2 linked regions of the Homo sapiens genome follow. The protein of the gene in region 1 purifies or fractionates together with the protein of each later gene. This does not show direct contact. Each region holds a gene or a part of one and is shown on either strand. Other genes may lie near its edges.

What was found.
Region 2: the proteins of TM4SF20 (region 1) and ATP23 purify together in Homo sapiens (affinity purification with mass spectrometry; one large-scale study listed by BioGRID and IntAct). This does not show direct contact.

The regions. Positions count from the first base shown.
Region 1 is NC_000002.12:227,362,017-227,365,841, reverse strand, and holds the end of TM4SF20 (transmembrane 4 L6 family member 20), read left to right. Parts: intron 1-1,829; coding exon 1,830-2,118; 3' UTR 2,119-3,804; downstream 3,805-3,825. UniProt on the Homo sapiens protein: Polytopic transmembrane protein that inhibits regulated intramembrane proteolysis (RIP) of CREB3L1, inhibiting its activation and the induction of collagen synthesis.
Region 2 is NC_000012.12:57,948,016-57,951,840, forward strand, and holds part of ATP23 (mitochondrial inner membrane protease ATP23 homolog), read left to right. Parts: intron 1-2,698; exon of another isoform or gene 2,699-2,869; intron 2,870-3,742; coding exon 3,743-3,825.

The sequences.
Region 1 (3,825 bases):
ATGCTTGTCTTTCAAAAATCTACAGTTACATATGTGTATGTATATTAAAAAATTATGCAAATATACACCAGAAACTTAACTTTCATCCTTGGAGAATGGAAATAGGGGATTCCCTTTATGAGAGTGAAGAGAACATTTACTTTCTACACTTCTGAACTAATTAAATTTGTCAACCATGAGCAAATATTACATTTACAATTTAAAAAATTTAATAAAAACACAATAAATAAAATGCAGAGCCTTGCCTGTAGGCTTAAATGGAAGAGCAACCAATGGATTCATACAGATATGCTATAAATATACTGTATGCATGGGAATGAATCCAAATTTTAAGTCATGTAATAACAAGTAATACTGGAGAGTTACATGTACTTAATAAGTGGCTCATTTTAGTCTTTTAAGTACATCATTCTGTGACTGAATCTAGACACAATTTGTAAAAACTGGAAGAAAAAAACTATCTAATCCATTACCTCTCTGTATAGCCTGCTCAGTTTAGCAAATAACCAGAATTTACTTTTGTAGTTACATACAAAAAATTTTTTCTCCTTTTCCCTTACCTTGCTACATTAAAAAAGAAAGTCCCTCAAATTTTGTGTAGCATATTTGTTTTGAACCAAAACCCAAGGAAGGCCAGGCACAGCGGCTCACGCCTGTAATCCCAGCACTTTGGGAGACCAAGGCAGGTGGATCGCTTGAGGTCAGGAGTTTGAGATCAGCCTGGTCAACATGGTGAAACTGCATCACTACTGAAAATACAAAAATGAGCCAGGCGTGGTGGCACGCGCCTCTAGTCCCAGCTACTCAGGAGGCTGAGGCGGGAGAATTGCTGGAACCCAGGAGGCGGAGGTTGCAGTGAGCCAAGATCAAGCCACTGCACTCCAGTCTGGGTGACAGAGTGAGACTGTGTCTCAAAAACAAAGCCAAGGAAAGTCTCCTTGCTAATAGACTTGAAGTAAAGGGTTAAAGATTTCTACCACAGATGCTATGCACATTAAATCCCCAGGGAATGACAACAGCCCACAATGTACCAGGCACCAGGCTACGCTCTGCAGACAACAGCGCTCAGATATTCTCAGCCTAGTTGCGGAGATGGGCTAGGCTAGCAAAGTTACAAGAGAGTGATCCTTGGCTTGCTACACATTTCACAAAACACTCATATTCCATGTGCTGAAAATACTGTTGTTTTCCCAGGTTGAATGTCAGTTGCTGATATCCAGCAATGCAAACTCCCTAAGAACATTCCATTTTACTCTACAGTAAACAAACAAAAAATCATCTTGAGATAGATGTATTAGGGCTAAAAGTTTCTCATTTTCCACAGCCCCGTTAAGAACAGGCACATCACTTTAATCAGACATATTTAATCAGTAAAAACTGTACATCTGGTTGAAGAACGGACGCCACGCTGTAGTTCTGCACTAAGAACTGAGCTCATTTAATGGGGGTGGCGGGGGGTAGGGGAGGCTCCTTAGTTTTTATATCTAGCAAGTAGAAGAGTATCTGAATAAATAAAATAAATAGGTTGAACCACGAAAAACTGTTGACATTCAACTATTTCTGACATCCCAAAACAGCAGTTTCATACCGTTCAACCTAAGAGAAGATGTACCATAGAGATGCTTGTTAAATGATGGGCTATATAAGTAATAAAAGTTTTGTAACTAGTAGAGTATATGGACACATGCTCAGAAACCCTGATCTCTGTCATTTCTGGGCACGATATTTCAAAAGTACATTCGTTTCACTCATTCTTTTATGTGCACAATGCTACTTTCCTTTGGTCAGGGATATTTCTGAATATCTGATTTTTATCTTTTGTTTTTCAGTGACATTCATCCAGAATCCTTCAACTTGCAGTGGTTTTTCAATGACTCTTGTGCACCTCCTACTGGTTTCAATAAACCCACCAGTAACGACACCATGGCGAGTGGCTGGAGAGCATCTAGTTTCCACTTCGATTCTGAAGAAAACAAACATAGGCTTATCCACTTCTCAGTATTTTTAGGTCTATTGCTTGTTGGAATTCTGGAGGTCCTGTTTGGGCTCAGTCAGATAGTCATCGGTTTCCTTGGCTGTCTGTGTGGAGTCTCTAAGCGAAGAAGTCAAATTGTGTAGTTTAATGGGAATAAAATGTAAGTATCAGTAGTTTGAATTAATTTGAGAAGTACACTTGTTTTCAAAGTCATCTTTGAGATGATTTAAAAAATCAACCCTTCACGTAGAAAGCACGTTGTAAATGCATAACACTCTCATATCAGTGGTTGATTTGGGAAAGGTGGAGAGAATTTTCAATTAGTTTTGTGTTGTACTATTCAAATTTTTTACCTCTTCACTGTGTGTAGAGAAAGGAGAAGGGAAGGAGGATGAGAAGGAACGGAAGTCATCCTGAAAATAAAAGTACAGGACTTTTTTTTTTTTTTTTTGAGACAGGGTCTCAAAAAAGGCTGGAGTACAGTAGTACAGTGGTGCTATCTCAGCTTACTGCAGCCTCAACCTCCTGGGCTCAGGTGATTCTCCCATCTCAGCCTCCCTAGTAGCTGGGACTACAGGTGCGTGCCACTATGCCAAGCTAATTTTTGTATTTTTAGTAGAGATGGGGGTTTTCCATATTGCCCAGGCTGGTCCCGAACTCATGGACTCAAGTGATCTGCCTGCCTCAGCCTCCTAAAGTGCTGCGATTACAGGCATGAGCCATCGCGCCTAAAGGACAGGACCTTTTTATTGTATTTCTTTAAAGAATAAATACATAACCTGAATGCAATCAAGTCTTTAGATCTAATTCTCAGCTTGCAGGGAACACTAGGACAAATCCAAAAAGTGGGTCAGCGGGCACAGAATGGCCCAATTTTCAACAGGAAAATGTTATAAAAGAAAAATATTTTTGAGGGAACTGTTATAGATTAAGAGAATAGAGGCATGTTTCAGCTAAACACATGTAAACTTTGTCAGAGATAATTGGGAGGAGTATGTAGAAGAATCGGATTATTGTTAATTTTGGTAGGTCTGATAATGGTTTTATAGTATAAAGGCTGAGTACCCCTTATCCAAAATGATTAAGATCAGAAGTGTTTTGGCTTTCACATTTTTTTGGATTTTGGAATTTTGCCTATAATAATGAGACATCTTGGGGATGGGATGCAAGTCTAACCACAAAATTCATTTATGTCTCATACACACTTTGAACACCTGGCCTGAAGGTAATTTCACACAATATTTTAAATAACTTTGTGCATGAAACACAATTTTGACTGCATTTTGACTGCAACTCATCACATGAGGTCAGGTATGGAATTTTCCACTTGTGGTGTTACGTTACTGGCTCAAAAAGTTTTGGATCTCGGAGCATTCTGGATTTTGAATTTTTGGATTAGTGATGCTCAACCTGTATACAGAAATGTCCTCATTTTTAAAAAAAGAAATGCATATTTATATGTTTTAAAATTACTTCAACCAAAAGCAACGGGGAGATGTTTACTGTTATATTTAGGTGACAGGTACATGGCAATTCATTATACCCTCCTATTTTCCTATGTTTACATTATTCATTAATTAAAAAACAATACCTAGAAAAACCCAAGACTTTCAAAAGCTATTTTCTATATGTGCCAATCTTTAAAAAACAGGATAACAAGGGTATTTATCACATTAAAATGTTGTAAAACAGCAAAGCTAAAAATCTAAAATTTTCTGAATGTTATTTCTATATTTCAATTGTTTATGTTCATTGGGCTTAAGGTTCCAGAAATAATTTGCAGTACCTACATTATAGCTGCCTAAATAAATTTAGTAACATCAAGAGCTTATAAGCCTTTTTTCTGAACA
Region 2 (3,825 bases), on another chromosome or scaffold:
GATTTTGGAGTCAGACTTGAGTTCAAATCCTAGTTTCCTTGCTTATTATCTGTGGGGCTTGGGCAAGTTATTTTTCTTCTTCTCAGTTTCCTCATTTGTAAACTGGTAATCACAATACCTATAGCTCTCAAAATGGCTCTGGATAAGTTCACTCCCTTCTCGGTCCCCCCAGGGTTAAACAGAGTGCACATCTTGAACTTTCATCCTAATTCTCAGCAGTGTTGAACACAGTTGGGCACCCTCTCCTTTTATTTTATTATTATTTTTTAAATTATTATTATTTTTGAGACAGAGTCTTACTCTGTCACCCAGGCTGGAATGCAGTGGTGCAATATGGGCTCACTGCAACCTCTGCCTCCTGGGTTCAAGTGATTCTCCTGCCTCAGCCTCCTGAGTAGCTGGGATTGCAGGCATGTGCCACCATGCCCAGCTAATTTTTGTATTTTTAGTAGAGTCAGGGTTTCACCATATTGGCCAGGCTGGTCTTGAACCCCTGACCTCAGGTGATCCACCCATCTTGGCCTCCCAAACTGCTAGGATTACAGGCGTGAGCCACTGTGCCTGGCCTATTTTTTTAAATGAAAATTTTTATTATGAAGTATCTCATTCATACAGAAGAGTAAAACATCTATATGTACACTTTCAGTAATAATAAAGTGCACACCTATGTAACCACCACCCAGACTAGAGAAAAAGAACATTACTAGGACTTCAGAAGCCTTCGTGGTCCTCTTGAATCAGGTCCTTTTCCCTTCCTTATCCTGACTTTTGTGGTAACCATTCCCTGCTTTTCTGAATGGCTTTACCATCTACATATACAATCCAACAGTGTGTTATTTAGTTGCCTGCTTTTGAGCTTTATACATGTTATACTTTGAATTTTATGTAGCATTTTGTAGTATTATGAAATTGTACAGTATATAGTCTCCAATTACTTTCCACCTTCAGCATTTGTGAGATTCTTTCTTGTTGTTGTGTGTACCTCTCTGGTTTATTTCGTTTCCCTGTTATATGGTATTTATTCCGTTGTGTGTTTATACTATAGTTTACTCTAATATTGATTGTTTCCAACTTTGTTATTATGAACAATGCTGCTATGAATATTTTTGACCTTCGCTACTGGTGCACATGTGCAAGAGTTTCTCTAAGGTATATGCTCAAGAGCAGAATTACTGGGTCATATAGTTTGTATACACTTGACTTCAGCTGTTAATGCCAAACACTTTCTTTGGTTTCTAGTATACAGCACTCTTCTGGTTGCTCCTTTGCTAGCTTACCTTCCTCTACTAGCATTTAAATGTCAAAGTCCCTCAATCCTTGGTCATAGAGCCCCTTCTTTTCTTACTCTGCCAAGGAGGTCTCATCAATTTTCTGGGGTCAAAGCTCACTTTTAAGAACTCCACATTCCATATATCCAAGTGCCCATTTAACACCTCTACTTGAGCATCTTTTTATTTATTTATTTATTTTTATTTTTAAGGAAAAAAAGTTTTTTTGGGACAGGGTCTTGCTCTGTCGCCTAGGCTGGAGTGCAGTGGCGCAATCATGGCTCACTACAGCCTTGAACTCCTGGGCTCAAGCAATCCTCCCATCTCAGCCTCCTGAGTAGTTGGGACTACAGGAGTGCATCACTGGACCCAGCTAACTTTTAAAATTTTTTGTAGAGATGAGGTCTCACTATGTTGCCCAGGCTGGTCTTAAACTCCTGGCCTCAAATGATCCTTCCATTTCAGCCTCCCAAAGTGCTGGGATTACAAGTGAGAGCCACTGCTCCCCACCTACTTAAGGGTCTTAAGGACACTTCAGACTTGAAATGTGTAAGTCCAAATTCATGATTTTTACCATCCCCCATCTCCCCACTCAACCCAGTCTTTTAGTTTTGCATATCTCAGTGGATGGTGCTACCATCGACCCTATTAGCCAAGCCAGAAATTTATGGATCATCTTTGATACCCCTGATTCCTTCCCCGTATTCTATCAACATATTTTGTCTAATTTACCTCCTAAATAACTCTTTTGGCTTCCACCACCATTCTAGCTGAAGTGCTGTTCTCTCTTGCCTAGAATATTAGCCTTCAGCTAATTTCTCTGCATCCAGTTTTGGCCATCTCCTGCCTATTCTTCCAACTATAGTTAAAAGGATAAAAGCAAAATAAAACAAAAGCAGTCTTCTGTTTCAACATTCCCTTTATCCTGAGAGCTTCCCATTGCTCTTAGGGTAAAGACAAGGTCTTCAGGGATTTGGCCCCCCGACCTCACCAGCCGTATCTGTTGCCTACCACCCCCACCGCTGTGCTTCAACTCTAGGGCTCTCCTTTTAGCTTCTCAAGCATTTTCTTCCGTCAACCCTCCCTCTACGCTTTGCATAGGTTTTTCTCTCTGCCTAGAATACTCCCTTCCCCTCCACACCTCAAATTTCACTTCTATTCCTCCATTAGATACCAGTTTAACCATTCCTTCCACAGAGAAACCTTCCCCCACCTCCAGAGTAGGTCAGGCATTCTTTCTTTTTCTTTTTTTTTTTTTTGACACAGGGTCTCCCTTTCTTGCCCAGGCTGGAGTTCAGTGGCGTGTTCCTGGCTCACTGCAGCACCAACCTCCTGGGCTCAAGTGATCCTCCTACCTCAGCCTTCCAAGTAGCTGGGACTATAGGCATGTGCCACCATGCCTGGCTAATTTTTATTTTATTTTTTTATAGAGATGGGGTTTTGCTCTGTTGCCCAGGCTGGTCCCGAACTCCTGGGCTCAAGGAATCTGCCTGCCTCAGCCTCTCAAAGTACTGGGATTATAGGCATGAGCCACTGCACCCAACCTCATTGTATATGCTCATGACAACCTGGGTTTTTCTTCATGACAACTGTCATTGCATGTATGTAAACATTTTGGTAAATATTTGGTTAGTTTCTATCTCCATCAGTAGATTATAATCTATTATTAGGTCTCAATAAGTATTAGTTGAATCAATGGATGTTGAATGAATGTATATAAATATCTGGCACATATCCCAGTGTCTGGCAGTAGTACACAATCAATGGCAGCTATTACTATTAGGATCCCTTGTGTCTTTCTTATTCTTATAGGGTCCTGCTCAGTGTGCTGTTGTGTTTTGCACTTCTTTCTGAAGGTCTTTCTGATGAGTTTTCCCTGGCATTTGCCCTCATTCTAGTAAAATGAGGACAGTGGTGGTCATTCCTTTTTCATTCAATGCTCATTCAGAAACTTGATAAGAAGTATTTTACATATATTCTCATTTAATTCTCACAGTTCTATGAGGTAGCTACCCTAATTATCTCCTTTTTATAGTTGAGGAAATTGAGGTACAGAGAGATTAAGAAACTTGCCTAAGGTCACTGAGTTAGTAAGGGGTGGAGCTGGAATTTGAATCTGTGTGCTTCATTCCAAAGCCCACTCTCTTAACCATAATGCTGTGGAGTCCGAGACAGACTAGTACGATCAGCCCAGTAAGGATGGTGTGTGAATACGTGTCCTTAATCTAAGTACTGCTGTAGTCCAGAGAGAGGAGAAGGGAGAAGTTAGTCACTGGGCGAGGCAATTGGAGCATGTACACTTAGGACTAGGACTTGTCCCATGGGTAGATGTGTGGCCAATGAAGAAGAGTGGGTAGAGATATTCCAGGCAGGTGAGCTTGTGGGGGAGAGGTGAGGTCATGTGGGAGAGAAGATCGAGTCTATGGAAGGAGATTTTAGAATCACTGAACTTCTTTTATTTTGGTGTCTCCTAGATAGTTTTGTGCCAGAATAATATCCATAATCAGGCCCATATGAACAGAGTGGTCACACACGAGCTTATTCATGCATTTGATCA